2 separate regions of the Homo sapiens genome follow, and region 2 is linked to region 1. Evidence: fine-mapped expression QTL. Tissue or cell type: thyroid. Region 1 holds a variant in brackets; the other region holds the start of a gene. All regions are shown on one strand. Distances are between the middles of the regions.

Region 1 (8,187 bases):
AGCATTTGGGTTTTGATTTTCCCCATGTAATTAAGCAAACTGTTCATAAGATAGTATTAGAATAGTCCCAATTTCAAATGTTGGATTTCCAAGTCAAACTATTGAAAGAACACAAAAGAAATAAATAAAGAGAATAAGGATGTAACTTCTCTAATGGAAAACTTCTCTCTTTTTTTCCAACCTTCTTGGCTGTAACACAAGGAAGGAGATACCCAGAATAGTGATTATCCTATCAGCTGGGCATTGTGCAGTGCCTTGTTCACACTTTTTGGCAACATTTTCAGATAAATGTTTGGATTGGGGGAAGGAAAACACAGTAAATGTCTACAAAAAGCCTGGGTCAATTTCAATGAACAAATAAATAAATAATTAGAGAATTATAAATTAAAATAAAGTAGCACATTTTGCTCATAAAATTTACAGATTTAAAAATATTAACAGTATTCCATAAGAGTAAAAGGGTGCAAAAACAGACTCATAAATTGTCAATGGGAGTATATAAATTCAGAATATCCTTTTAGAGGATAATAGGGCAGGATACATATAAGATATTTGAGTGCACATATATTATAACTCGGCAAGATAGGAATCAATCTTATAGAAATAGTTACATAGGAGAAAAAAGACATATTAAAGGCTATCCATTGAAAAATTTGAAACCGCTTAACTGTTCATCAATAGAGGCATGATTTAGTGTATTTTGGTGTATGAATTAATGTCTATACATGACATACAAAGCTCTATAAGGCATATTGCTAAGCAAAAGGAAACAATCATCTCAGAACAATATATGATATATAACCCACTTTTGGGAACAGTAACACAAAAATTGTAAGGAGTGTGTGTTTGTGAGTGCATGAGCATGTGTATATATCTATGTATGTAAGAGAAAACATGCACCAAACCACTAGCAGTGGTTACCTCTGGGTGTGTGTGTGGGGTCAGGGGGATTGGTGGTTGGAATGATGGTGAAAGGGAAACATACATACTATTTCCTAAATAATAATTATAATAATAATTAATATTTATGGAGCACTTACTATACATCCAGCACTATGCTGAAAGCTTTACATAAATAATCCTACTTAATCTTGACAACCACCTTATGAGGTAAATATTGCTTTCTGAATTTTACCATTTCCATTAAGTTAACTGAGTCACAAATAGGTGACATAATTTGAGGTGATTCAGTCAGAAAGTTGTAGTACTGTGATTTGAACCAAGGTAGTCTGGCTCTAGAGACCATGCTTAGAAACTTGATTCCATCTATCTATGTATTCACGTATCCATCCGTCTATTCATCCATCCATCCATCCATCCATCCATCCATCCATCCATCCATCCATCCATCCATCCATCGTCTATTCATCCACCTACCTACCTGTCATTTATGTATTGTCCATCATCTATCTATCACCCTTCCTTCCTCCCTCCCTTCCTTCCTCCCTCCCTTCCTTCCTTGCTTCCTTCCTTCCTTGTTTTTTTTTCTCTTCTTCCACACTAAAGTTCTCAGGCTACCATGGGGAAAATTAACCGTACAATATAATTTCTGAAAACACGCTAAGTTTCTCAGAGAGTAGCAAACATGACAAAAAAACTGGTTCTGATTATTTACCAGAATGAGGGAATTTGCCTCATTCCAGGACACTTGTGATAGGTGACAAACTGAATGTAGATCTCCAGATGGAGCAGAAAATGCAACTGAGTATGATTCCTGCCTCTGACTTGCTGCTGATCCGTGGAAGCAAAGCATTTCATAACAAGAAGACAACAATCTTCTCCTTTATTTTGCTAATGAAGAAACAGGGTCCAGAGTATTTAGTGGCCGAATTGATATAAAAATCAGGTTTTCTAACCCTCAGCTCAGTGCTTTCTCCACTATATCATAATTGGGAGTTCCATCATTTATAATGTACATTTACTTCCTATAGGATGTAACCAGAAAAATGGACACACAGAGTTGATCCATTTCTGTCACTAGAGCTCCAAAATTTGTATATATTTTTCTAAAAGGAAAGAAAAAAAGGACAGTTAGTGTTGAGCAGGTGTTTTATCATCAGCCTAAAAGGTTTGGCCATTATACCCTCCTTAACAGGAATCAGAAAAAAAAAAAAGAAAAAAAAAAAGGCGGTTCAATTTATTTCTTGAGGGTTGTGTTTTTGTAAATTAGCTAGTTGGTTTTTACGGGGACTCCCTCCAACTTGCCCATTTCAAAGGTCTCCAATCCTGTTAAATAAGAAAACCATCTTGGCTGAATGGTTAGGTCAGACAATGGCTAGACATGAAGCGAGTTGTCTGCAGAAGACATGGGCAGCCCAGTGAACCACAAGGATGGGTACAGGACATTGAGATGGGCAGGATGTCATTGTCAGCTAAGCTCATGTGCAGGTGACTGCCCCTGAACAGAAAAAAAGGTTAAGGGTCAGGAAACATGTGGACCCTGAGGAGGGCAGAGAAAGTACTGAGTCTAAGCCACTTTTCCTGATTTTATTCAAGCCAAGCGGAAGGCAAAGGGTTGCGTCAACTAACTTTCCCTGAACTGGTGCATCAGCAGGATGCTCTGAGCCTCTCCCACTTATCTCCAGATCCCAAACACAGAGTTCATGGTCATCTGGCTGCCTTGCTCAGAGCTCTTCAGGCAAAGGAGAAGAAAGGCCACTTCAACATCTAGCATTCTTCAATCTTGCTTGAGGCTGGCAGCTGTCACAGAATGCCATCAGCAAACAGATCATCTTAGCAATGTCTTTCCCACTTCTTAAACCATCAGCCTCTCACGATTTTTGAGTAGTTCCATGAGCCCTGTTCAGTTTTGAAATTCAAGCTACTGAGGCTTTGAACTACTTATTAGTACCAAAAGCCCAAAATATTTATCATCTATTGCTTGAAGAAAATTTTGTTTTCTGTGAGGCCATGACCAATACCATTAAATTTAAAAAAACCTGTGCCTAGTGGCCATTCCTCTGCTTAATGGTTGACTTTTCTGAACCTTTTGTTGAGTCTGCTTCACTTTGAGTCTCCAGGTCATTTGTTGTTTAAACAGAAGATCTGAAAATCAAAAATTTAAATATTACATATATATACATGTATATTAAACTATTTTTAAACATTATAAATGTAGTATACATTTTAAAATCTTGATCAGCAAAGAAGAAATAAAGTAAAAAAATGAAATGCCAAATGCCAGTCCCACAGATATTAGCATTATTAACAATTTCTCATATTGCCTCCCAGAATTGGTTTATGCATGAGGTACATGCACAGGGTACAGGTATTCTTTTTGATTGTTGTTTTAATGAAATGGAATCATACTAGACATTACTGCTTGGCAGCTTGCTTTTTTTCCATGAGCAATATATGCAACTCCTCCCTACTGGTAGGTATTAAGGTTGTTTCCATTTTTTAACATTTTCATCATCTAATTTTGCAATGAATATCCTCATTACAGGCAACTTGTAGACTTGCGCATGTATATATTCAAGTAATTACATTTGGATGCATGTTACTCGACTCTAGTAAAAATTTTGAGAACTTTCATTTGAGAAATGAAACCTGAAGGCAAAAATGGAGGGTAGGGTATATCCCTAGATTTATCCTTGCCAGTCTCTATCCTCAACTGCGGATAAATTGAATGTTGACTATAGGAAAATAAGAGAAGCAGAAAATAAACACATTTAGGAAACACGGGCACAGATTTTCTTGGGTGTCATGGGATTCGGGTCTTAGGAGAGTTATGACTTGGTCATTTTCATCCTGGTAATCTTTTAAAATAAAATGATTTCATTTGTCATGACAATGAAATCAGTTACTTTTTTCAAGTTTCATCACCACTGAGGTTCTCCTATCACCCCAGTTCTTGGTTATCACTCCTTCCAAGGAATGCCTATGATACTTAATTGCTTGCCCTGTAAATTGGATACACTATCTAGCTTTACATACTTATTTTCTAATGTACCAATTCTGAGTTCCTAATCTTATAAACCTCTTCAGGGTAAGTTTTATGCCTTTCTATATTCTTTGTACCATCTGTGCAGCAATATGCAATGCCTTAGAAGTGATAGCGAATGATTAATCTCTCTATGAATTGGTTTCCCTAGACTCCAAGGTCTAGAGCCCTACCTTATTTCCTAATGAACACGAACAGTTGAATAAGGAAAATATTTTTTTCCCATAGCCCCTTCTTACAGTAGACCAGTGCTTGGCATTCCAACCGAGTTTCCCAATCTGGGTGGACCAAAACATGACATTTTGATAGACAATAGCCATGAACCTTTGTTTTGTTTCCCTTCACAGCTCAGGTGGCCCTATCTGGCACA[T/A]AAGTAGAAACAGATGTTGAGAAGAGCAAGGAGGTATGTGGTGCCGATGTCTCAGTTCTGGGAAAAGGAAACACTTCACAGAAAATAGGTGCCACCTGTAGGGGGTTGCAGTCTGCCAAGTGAAACCAGTTTGGCTAAAGATAGCTAAAAATATTCCCCTAGGGTATAAGGTAATGTTTGTTTATGTATGAGACTGAATGAGGGTGTGTGTGTGTCTACGTGTGTGTGAATGCATGTGTACCTTCTGCATCATCCACTCCAATGAAGCCTTTTGACCTGTTCATGAATCCAATTGCTGAAAGAACAATTTTTATTTAATATTTGACCTGTTAAGAAAAATAGAACTGTTAAATAAATTTTTAACGGGTGCAGAAGAAAGAATTTTAAATTTCCTTATGTTTCAACTACCTCAATAAGATTTGCTAAGCTATCTAAAAGAGATTTGGTGCTTTGAAGAACTATACAAAACTCTACACAATGATTCAATATTACTTACACCTCCCTCCTAGCAGAATTTGGTTACATTTGGGGGATTAAGTGTACCTAAGACTACTAAATGAAATTGAATTGAAAAGCCATGTCTCTTTGGGCAAATTACTAAACTTCTTGTGCTTCAGTTTCCTCATCTGTAAAATGGATATAATAATTGTACATACTTCAAAGAGTTATTGAGAAGAGTGGATATTCTAAGAAAGTCACACTATGTAACACATGGAAAGTTATGACTACTATACTACTACTATTATGACTTCTACCACCACCACCCAATCCCTTCATCTTTTCCCCCACCTTTTCTTCTTTAATTCACAAAGATCTTCAATAATTTAATTTAAATGTGAAATTCTACGGAAATTTGTAATATTTTCTAGATGTGGGGATCCATAATTTTCTTTGATGTTGGAATTTAAGTCATGAGGCCTGATGTCACAGAAAGAGCACAGCATTAGTGGTCCTACAACTTGAATTTAGTTCCAGCCCTCTTACTTAGTAGCTCAGTGACCTGGAAAAGTTGCCTTTTCTGAGCCTCTCTTTCCTTAACTGTAAAATGGGAATAAGTGAATGAATGGGATGATTTCTCAGGTCCCTTCTGGGGGACACTTGGGAAGACCTGAATTATATTATGGAGCAAGATGTAGAAAAAAATCATAATGCTTTATACTATAAGCTGAACTCAATGGTTAATTTGTTTTAAAGAAGCAAAGTTAAAAATAATCCATTAGAAGTGAAAGAGATTAGAACTGAACATAAATATTTTCTAAAATTACTAAACAAGACTGAAGATTAGAACATCAGACTATAAAATCTTTAATGGCAGGGACAGTACATTAATATGTGTCCTTGTATCTATAGAGGTTAACAAGAGCCTTGGTACATAGTCGATGCCCAAGCAAAGTTTGCTAAAATGAATCTAACAGAATTCAGAGTCAATGTAGCTTGTGAATGAAATACTATTCTATTTGGATTGAACCCCGAGTTTAAATTGTGAGAAGGCTTAAATTTCTGAGATCAAAAGCATTATACTAGAATAGAAGTTCTTGGTGGCTGATGGACCAACATCATAACTATTACCTGGAAACTCATTAGAAAGGCAGAATTGTAGGCTCCACCTCAAGCCTACTGAATCAGAAACTCTAAAGATGGAGTCCAACAATGTGTTTTTTGTTTTTGTTCTGCTCTTTTAAATAGACTTTATATTTTAGAGCTGTTTTAGGTTCACAGCAAAATTGAGTGAAAAGTACAGAGTTGGCATACACTCCTTGTTCCACACATGCATGGCTTCCCCACCGTCAATATCCTGCACCAAAATGGTACATTTGTTACAGTTGATAAACCTACACTGACACATCATTATTATCCAAATTCCAAAATTTACATGAGGGTTCACTCTTGGTGTTGTATATGCTATAGGTTTTGATAAGTGTATAACATGAATCCATTATTGTAATATCATACAAAAGAGTTTTACTGTCCTAAGCAATGTGTGTTTTATTTTATTTTATTTTATTTTATTTTATTTTATTTTATTTTATTTTATGAGAAAGAGTCTTGCTCTGTCGCCCAGGCTGCAGTGCAGTGGCGCTATCTCAGCTCACTGCAACCTCTGTCTCCTGGATTCAAGCGATTCTTCTGCCTCAGCCTCCTAAGTAGCTGGGATTGCAGGTGCCCACCATCATGCCCAGGTAATTGTTGTATTTTTAATAGAGACAGGGTTTCACCATGTTGACCAGGCTGGTCTTGAACTTCTGACCTCAGGTGATCTGCCCGCCTCGGCCTCCCAATGTGCTGAGATTACAGATGTGAGCTACCGCACCCAGCCAGCAAACTGTGTTTTAAAAAGCTCTCTCATGCACATTAAAGTTTGACAACCATTGCATTACAGGATAGTTTTTCAAAGCTAAGTTGAAGAACTAGCCAAGAAATTAAGATGGTCTTAAATCCTACCTTTGAATTGAAGCTGTACTCAGTGTATCCTACCCTCCTCTTAATACACATTTGGACGCTAATGACCAGTACAGTCATTAAAAGAATTATGAACTCTGTCTAAATCTCTACTTCTCCCTTTGCTGAACTTTTGAGATGCTCTCCTCTACTCACATACTAATTGGAAACTAGGATAGAGCTGTGGAAAAGACACTGGTTTATTTTTAAAGAAAATATTTGGTCAGCCACGGTGGCTCACGCCTGTACTCCAAATACTTTGGGAGGCTGAGGAGGGTGAATCACTTGAGGTCAGGAGTTTGAGATGAGCCTGGACAACATGGTGAAACCCATCTTTACTAAAACATAAAAATTAGCTGAGATCATGCCCACTGCACTTCAGCCTGAGCGACCGGGCAATATTCTGTTTCAAAAAAAGAAAAAAAAGAAAGAAAACATTTTATTATCAAAAATGTCATGCATATACAGAGGCACAGAGAAAAGTGTCGTACATCCTTACGTAATCATTGCTAATCTTCAATAATTATAAACTCCTGGACTATCCTGTATCATGTATATTCACATCCATCCCTCTATCCATCCAAAATAATTTGAATCAAGTCCAAGATAATATCATTTTACCTGCAAATATCTATGGTTCAGCAAATAGAAGAGAATACTTCTTAACTAATTTTATGAGGCTATCATTGTCAAGATAACAAAACAGAAACAGAAAAAAAAAACTGAAGACTAATATCCCTCATTAATATAGGTTCAAAAATTTTTAACAAAACATTGGCAAATTGAATCTAGCCATATATTAAAAAATAAAAGAAAGCACATTATATCTAAGTGGTTATTTTGCCAGGAATGCAAGTTTGGCTCAACATTCAAAAATCAATCAATGCAATTTGACATAGCAGCAGACTAAAGAAGAACAACCATATTATTATTTCAATAGAGTCAGAAAAAACATTTGACTAAATTCAACATCTATTCATCATAAATTCCAATAAGTTAGAAATAGAAGGGAACTTCCTCAGCCTGATAAAAAGTATCTATGGAAAACCTAAAACATCATACTTAATGATGAAAAACTACATACTTTCTTCTCAAGCTTGGATATGGGACAAGGATGCACATTCTCATTACCTCTATTCAACATTATATTAGAGATCCTAGTCTATGCAACAAGCCAACAAATAAATAAAAGGCATACAGATTGGAAAGGAAGAACTAAAACTGTCTTTATTAATGGTAACATTATCATCTACATAGAAAATCTCCAAATCTATCAAAACCTACTAGAACTAATATGTGAGATTAGCAAGGGCACAGGTTACAAGGACAATATAAAAATTGATTATATTTCTATATAATAGCAAAAAACAATTGGAGATTAAAACTTAAAAATGGTACCATTTACAATGACATCAAAGAATATGAAATACTTTGG
Region 2 (8,187 bases), 800 kb before region 1:
AAAAGTGTCTCTCAATTATATCAGAAACCCAAAAAACTGTAATTCCATTCACAGAGAAAACCCCCAGAAATGTTGACTTTGAACAGTACAGCGTGAGTGGTGGCCTTTAGAGTTCTGCCGTGTGGAAGGCCTGGATTGAGGACAGGGAAAAAACAGATAAGCTTCATGATTGAAAGCCTTTCCGGAAAGCTACCCTTTTCTTTACCAAAGCATGAAGTTCAATCAGAAATGAGGTAAGTGGTTAGGGATCATAAAGGTTGAAAACTGTATTTTTGTCTTTACCTGAAAAGTTTTTCTACCAAAGGTAAACACTCCACTGTCAGAGTCTGGCGGTATCCCAGCTGATCCAGCCTTTTCCTAATATTAATATACTTTCTCTCTACAGCTGTAGTCATCTCGTCTTCTAAAACAAGTTTTATTCACTTCCAAAAATTAAAGTCCTGAGAGAAAAGAATGAAACATCATTATCTTATTATAGCTATGATTGTTGTTTCACAATAAGAAGAAAAAATTATTTTAATATGAAGCAATTATTTTTTGTTTTTCTTCAGGTAGGTAGCCTTCTGGAAAATTCAGATTTAAAGCCAATGCTTATGATATTCCTGTTACTGCATTAAAATAAATACTTCCTCATACAACTAAATGTAAAAGTTAAAATCCTAAAGCTTCTAGGAGAAAACAAAGATTTTTCCTAAGCCTGAAGTAGGCAGAGACTTCTCAGAGAGGCCTCTTTTAAAAGCACTAAACATAAAAGATAAATTTGATAAATTGGACTTCATCAAAATTTAAAATGTCTGCTCATCAAAATACTCAATTAAAATAGAGAAGGCAAACCAAAGAGTGGGAGAAAATATTCACAATATCTGACAAAGGATTTGTATAGGGAATATAAAAGGAATTCTTACAACTCAATAATAAGACAAACATCCCAATAAGAACATTAATTTGGGCTAAAACTGTAATTTAGTTGCGCTAAAGATTCGAACAGACACCTCGCATAGGTGTCTGAATGGGAATGATGATATGAAATGGTGCTCAACAGTAGTCAACATGGAAATACAAATTAAAACAACAAGGTACATTTTCTCCCAAACTAGAATGACTAAAATTACAAGGACCGACAATAGCAAATGTCGACAAAGATCTGGAGCAACTGGAATCTTCACACATTGCTGACAGGAATGTAAAATCACTTTGGAAAAAGTCTGGCAGTTTTTTTATAAAGTTAAACATACTTCTGGACTATAACCCTGTGATTTTATTCCCAGGTATTTATAGAAATAAAAAATATTCACAAAAATACTCTACAAGAATGTTCACAGCTTTACTCATAGTAGCCCCAAACTGGAAACAACCTAAACCCCCATCAACAGCAGAAGGGGTAAAGTATGATATATTTATACAGTGCAATACTAAGGGATAAAAGGAACTACTGATACACATCAACAGCATGGATGAATCTCAAAAACATTATTTGAGCAAAAGAAACCAGACAAATACTGTATGACTCCATTTACATGAAGTTGATGAACAAGTAAAATTAAAACTATGGGGCCAGAAATTAAAACAAGAGTTGTCTGGGGAGGTGAGGCGGGCTGCAGATTGCCCGTTAAGAGTTAAGACACAACTTTTTAGGGTAATGAAAATATTACATTGATTGGGGTAGTGGTTACACAAGTGTATACATTTAGAGAATTTACTTTTCAAATAGTACACTTAAACTCTATGCATTTCATCATGTAAATTTCACTTCAATTAAAAAAAAAGACACACATAAGTACCTCTGTTCAAGTTTTTATCTTTGTCTTTTTAAATATTTATGAATATATTCCTATCAATCTGCCCTAAAATGGAGTTATCCAAAGAGCATTTCTTTTTTTTTTTTATTTTAATTGTTACCTTTTTTAGAGACAGGGTCTTGCTATGTGGCCCAGGCTGGTCTCCAACTCCTGAGCTCAAGGTATTCTCCCACCTCTACCTCCCAAAGTGCTAGGTTTACAGGTGTGAGCCAATATGCTCAGCCCAAAGATCATTTCTTTAGAAACTCTGCTCTTTTCTAACCTTTGCTAACTAACTGTAGTCATGGTACTCGTATTTCTAAGCCAAATAAAAATTTTGTTTTACATCTGTTGTTCTTCACAATATATAAAAAATGCATTACATGCATGAGCATACATGTAAAAGTCGATCCTCACAGCTACCCTGTGAGGGAGAAAGACCAATGATATTATCCCTACTTAAACATGAGGAAAGGCTGCCTCAAGAAAGTAACTCTTCCAAAACCACGGGGCCACAAAGTAGGTGGGCAGTCATCAGAGACCAGGTCTCCTGAGTCTCTCCTTGGTCACTCCTTTCTGTATATCTTTCTCTTTGCTCTTGTTAACTTTTTTTGAATGGCTTCCTCATAGATTTCCTAGGTTCTTTCCACAAGAGACACCTAAGTGATGCAGGGTTTTTAGGGAAATTCCTGCAGACATCAGAAATACACCTGACAAATCCAGGTGTATTACTAGCAGGGTGTAAACTTACAGGCGGTGCACCACTCAAAACATTTCCCCTCTTTGCTACCAACTCCAGTTACCCAGAGATAATACCTCCTCACATCCTGCTTTGGAGGGGAGAGAATGAGAATGAATATGAATCAATAAATCATGGCCAGGGCCTCAATACACAGGACGGATTAAAATCCTCCCAGATAGAAACATGTTAGGCCGTCCCCACCCATGAACTGTTGTCTTTCCCCATAACCCCCATCCAAATATGGTGGCTATACTCTAAGTTTCTAGCAAAGCAACATAAAAGGTTAGGTTTGGGGGTCCCCCATACATATATGTGTAGAAGTATCCATCTACTTAACTCTGGGGGTTGGCGTCTCAAAACCAGTACATTTAATGCTGTATGTATGTGTGCACAGGGCTTAAGAAGATAAACAAGAAACCCCAAACGACAACAAAGAAACCCGTTAGCTGTGGTTATCTCAGAGTCCTTTCTTATTGAACTCAAAGTAGTAAAGGCTGGAAAGCAGTGGAGAGGCTTCAAAGGAGCTGGGCAAAGGTTAATTAAAGGCTGTCGTCCTACGCTTTGCGACATTTTTGTTACAAAGAGCATGGATGACTGCTACACTGAGAAGGCATTTTAATGTTTAAATCTATCCATTGGTCAACAGCAAGCCTGTCTGCACGGCCCACACAGACGCTCCTTGACGAGTCGGCCCAAGCTCTCCTCCACCCAATCTCCGGTTTGCAACTTTACCGTCGGGTGTTGACGGGAAGGGGGTGTGGGAGCGGGGTGGGTGGGAAGAGTCCCCGCGCCCCTCCCCGCCCGGTCTGACCCGGCCTGGCCTCACTTCCTCCCGCGGCCGCGCGGCCTCCCGGCAGTGCCCGAGCCCGGCCCGCGGGTACCGCCCAGAAGGCGAAGGCGCCACCACCGCCGCAGCTGGCCCTCTGGCTCCCACATCCGGACTCACCGGCAGCTCCAGCCGCCGTTGCCTCCGCCTCCAGCCGCATTGCCCTCAGGCCTCGAGTCCCCCACTAGCTCCTTCCGTCCAGGCACGGGCTCCGGCGCTAGAGCAGTTTGAAAATGGCGCGGAGGGACGATCGGGGCCGACACGGAGGAGGCGCCGCGGTTGCCCCGGTAACGGGAGCGGCGGACGATTAGCGGCTCGCGGCGGGGACGCGCTTGGCGACGATGGCGGAGCCCCAGTGCCCGGAAATGCAACGGCCCGGACAGCGCGAGGCCACGGCGCCCCCTGGAGGTCGGCGCCCGCGGCCAGCAAATGCCAAACCTCAGCTGGTGCCTGAGCTGGCATCCTCTTCCTCCTGTCGGCGGGAGGTGTGGATCACCTACTGCGTGCGGGGAACAAACGCCGCCCCAGTACCGGTCCCTGCAGCGGAGTAGCCTTCACCTGCAAGGTGAACGCCTGCTCACCACGTAATCCCCAAACGCAGATATCACGTTGTCTCTGCAACTTTCCCTGACAACCACCCAATGCAATTAATTATCCCACAATAGTATCTCCCGCAGGCTCTCTGTAGAACCATAGAATTCATCCATCAAAATACAATCATTTGTTGATCCGTCTCTCTCTGCCGCCCCCAAATGTGAATTCCTTGAGTCAGAGACTATTCTACTCAGCAAAACATTTGTGAGTGGAATTAAATTGAAATAAACCGTTATAGTCCACTCACAGATGGAAAACACATAGTAAAATCCTAGAATTCCATTTCTCCCCTGAAAATTTCCCAGACAGTCAGAGGGAGTTTCATTCTTTCCTGTTTACTTTTCTCCCAAATAGGCCTTCTGAGGCAGCAGAATAGGGAAGGAAGTCAGAAGACTGACCAGCTCATACCTATGGAATGCCTATCATACATACACTTAAAATTATGGCAAGCTCACGCAGGCGCACTAAGAGAGAAAAAACAAGAAAACAGATATGACAATTATAGGAAATCCCCTCCCTAGAGTTAAAGAAGTGTAGGAAGTGGGTATAAAAGAACAAAGGCTATATTAATCCAGGGCTGACACCACTTGAAGATAAGCCCGTTCCTCTCTCTGGTATATTCTTTGCTTAATAAATCTTGTGGGGTGGTTATTTGTGTGTCTCATCCAATTCTTTGTTCATAACACCAAGAACCTGGAACTCCCAACTTCCAATCTGGTAACATATTTTGGTGAGCCAGCCAGGAGGTAAGCCCAGAAGAACTGGGACTTTTTATTTTCTTTCTTTTTTGCTTCAGCTCTTTCACTTTGGTTTAAAGCTGCCTTCTGCTGGCACGGATTGGGCAGTTAAGAACGAAAAAGGCACTGGCCGCTTGAAGACTCCCATTGTTGCGGGAAAGCAGAGGACCAGAAAGACCAATGGGTGGAGCAGGAGGATTTTATTAAGGTGTGCACTGGCTCCGTGGATTTGCATCCAAAAAGCTGAGCCCTGAACAAAGACAGAGCTTGGCTTATATAGGCTAAATTAAAAAAGCAGAACCAAGGCAGTAAATCACACAGTGACAGGTTTTGTAATCTATAGCATAACTGCTGAAATTTGCATAACTTTTGGCTTTGCTTAGCTGGTGGCCTTGCAGCTGCGTCAAAAGAAAAACAGGAACCTACAAATCTTTCTAAACATAGGCAAAAATAATCATAATTAATGGTCTAAGGAAAGAGAAACAGTAAAGGAATTTGTTTTTCTTAACCATTGCTCAGGGGTGTTTGGAGCTCATTCCTGGCTTCTTAGACTAGGTCACCATGACCTTCCTATAGCCTTGCTTGTTACTATCCTTAGAGTGAGTAAATGCAGTACAAAACTTTCTTTAAATTCCTGCCTCAACGTGACAGGATAACCTGATTGGGGAATGGAACAGATGGGTCCCACGGGGTACAAGATCAATCCCTGCAACAGTGAGGTGCATGTTTGTGTGGCTATAATTATTACATTATTTGCTGCTTGTTTTTTTGTTTTTGTTTTTGTTTTTGTTTTTGTTTTTGTTTTGAGATGGAGTCTTGCTCTGTCACCCAGGCTGGAGTGCAGTGGCATGATCTCGGCTCACTGCAACCTTCACCTCCCGGGATCAAGCAATTCTCCTGCCTCAGCCTCCTGAGTAGCTGGGATTACAGGCACCCACCACCATGCCCGGCTAATTTTTGTATTTTTAGTAGAGACAGAGTTTCACCATGTTGGCCAGGGTGGTCTCGAACTCCTGACCTCAGGTGATCCGCCCACCTCGGCCTCCCGAAGTCCTGGTATTACAGGCATGAGCCACCATGCCCAGCCAGCCACCGTGCCCAGCCTTGCTGCTTGTTTTATTTTTTTTTTCTTTTCTTCATTTGTGTTGGGATATCATGTTTTGACCAATTAGAGATCTCCCCCCAACCCAAAGGGCCAGGACAACAGGTAACTGACTGTGGGGAGCCCAAGGATTAGCATCAGCCTGAAGATTAGGGCCAACCACCTGGATAATGAGAGTACCCTGCTTCTTCTGTGAGGGATCAGATCTAGATTGTTTTAGTTTAGTACATCTGGTGCTAAAAGAAAACTCCTGGTGGAGACTCTCGGATCATTGCATAAATTGCACAGTGGATCCATGGGGAAATTACTGTGCCTGGTTTATCTCATATAGTCAGAGGGCACTCTACTATCTTATTGAGAGGCCAGTCTCTAATAACAAATTTAAACTAGGCAGTCTGCAATTCCTTGCCCTTCAAACTAGAGTTACTACAATAATTAAGGAAACCATTTGGGAAGAAACTCTTTTGGCCAGCTACAGGGATACTAGAAGCCAAAGGTTACACCCAGGAACTAAAGGGAAACTTATCATAGGTCACCAATTATGGCAGGATCCTTCTTCAAATGGCACTGGTGCCCACTATGGCTAGAGACGTCTGGCACTCAGAGGACAGGTCCATTTGGGGGATGCCCAAATGGACCAAAATTACAGTCCAGATCCTTCAATAGGGGACACCCTTAAGGGAGACTCTAGATGTAAACTCATGAACCTATGAGACTCCTTTCATGCGCGTCCATGTGAAGAGACCACCAAACAGGTTTTGTGTGAGCAATAAGGCTGTTTATTTCACCTGGGTGCAGGCAGGCTGAGTCTGAAAAGAGAGTCAGCGAAAGGAGATAGGGGTGGGGCAGTTTTATAGGATTTGGGTAGGTAAAGGAAAATTACAGTCAAAGGGGTTATTCTGTGGTGGGCAGGAGTGGGGGTCGCAAGGTGCTCAGTGGGGGAGCTTTTTGAGCCAGGATGAGCCAGGAAAAGGACTTTCACAAGGTAATGTCATCACTTAAGACAAGGACTGGCCATTTTCACTTCTTTTGTGGTGGAATGTCATCAGTTAAGGCGGGGCAGGGTATTTTCACTTCTTTTGTGATTCTTCAGTTACTTTGGGCCATCTGGGCATATATGTGCAAGTCACAGGGGATTCAATGGCTTGGCTTGGGCTCAGAGGCCTGACAACTCCCTTCTTCTTTTCCACAGATTAGTGTTGGGAAACATTCCTTCAGTCCTATCTGACTCCCCTCTTGGCTGCATCTTCAATCATTGGAATCAATTTGACCCTGAAAACCTGTGAAAGAAATGCCTAATATTTTATTGTAACACCTTTTGGCCTCAATTTCAGCTAGGGAGTCAAGAGCAATGGCCAGTCAATGGAAGTCTCAATTATGACACCATCCTCCAATTAGAACTATTTTGTAAGAGACAAGGCAAATGGTCAGAAATACCATATGTGCAAGCCTTCATGGCCCTATACCAAAAGCCTACCATTTTCAAAGCTCCCAGCACTTCTCCACAGAAAGAAACTCCTAAAACTGAGCCGAATACTGTAGATAACCCCCTCTTGCAAGGGGTACATATGTGTCAGGGTGAACAATAGCCACCTTCCTATAATCCAGGTCCAAGTGCACTTGAAGCTTCAAAAGAAGGACAAGAGTCACGGGTCCTAGCGATCCCTCCCCATACTAGCTTAGGAACACCATATTCAATGACACCACCTGTCCTGCTACCTCTCAGAGAGGTGGCAGGAACTGAGGGTCCCATCAGGGTACAGGTCTCCTTCTTAATAACTGATATCCAACAATGTAAGGAAAAACTGGGCAGTTACTCAGAAATTTGCTGTTGGGTTCCAGACTTTGACTTTGGCTTTCAACCTTTCTTGGAGAGACATGCAATTCATTTTGGCCACCTGTTGCACACCTCTGGAAAAGGAATGAATATTTGAGGCTGCTCGCCAGGACACTGATGAACATTTTGCATGTAGCCTGCAGGGCAACAGATCGGGAGCAGATACAGTCCCTACTACTGAACCCATTTGGAAATATAATACCCCCATGAGAATGAATAATCAAACTAAATTTCTTGAGGCACCCCTGAGGGGAATGAAAAAAGGTGTAACAAAGGGAGTAAACTATGATAAGTTTAAGGAGATTACTCAGGGGAAAGAAGAGAATCCAACCATGTTTTACAGTAGACTAGAAGAAGCCTTTAAAATATATACAAACTTAGATCCTGCTTCTCCTGAAGGCAAGATATTAATGGCACAACATTTCATTAGTCACTCTACCCCAGACATTAGACATAAGCTCCAGAAGCTGCAAAGGGGGCCATAGACAAAACCAGTTCCTTGACACCATCTTTATGGTGTACAACAATCATGAACTGGAGGAAGGAAAAGGGGAACAGAGTAAAAAAAAAC

What was found. PIP is the estimated chance that this variant, and not a neighbour inherited with it, causes the effect.
Region 2: CEP135 starts here. The variant in region 1 is fine-mapped to the expression of CEP135 in thyroid (GTEx, PIP 0.96).

Annotation. Positions count from the first base shown.
Region 1 is chr4:55,140,311-55,148,497 of GRCh38, reverse strand. No RefSeq gene overlaps it. Among named protein-coding and RNA genes, the nearest start is that of KDR, 19 kb to the right of the region's middle. The variant T/A (reference allele first, on the strand shown) is at 4,314.
Region 2 is chr4:55,944,339-55,952,525 of GRCh38, reverse strand. It overlaps CEP135 (centrosomal protein 135), which reads right to left and starts at 3,581. Exons shown (of 26, transcript NM_025009.5): 1 at 3,467-3,581; 2 at 283-440. The coding sequence starts at 395. EXOC1-AS1 (EXOC1 antisense RNA 1) reads left to right here and starts at 4,514. Exons shown (of 5, transcript XR_941069.4): 1 at 4,514-4,686. It overlaps LOC124900705 (a long non-coding RNA gene), which reads left to right. Exons shown (of 3, transcript XR_007058124.1): 3 at 55-135. RefSeq lists silencers at 3,176-3,635, 3,686-3,825 and enhancers at 3,040-4,004, 4,623-4,772.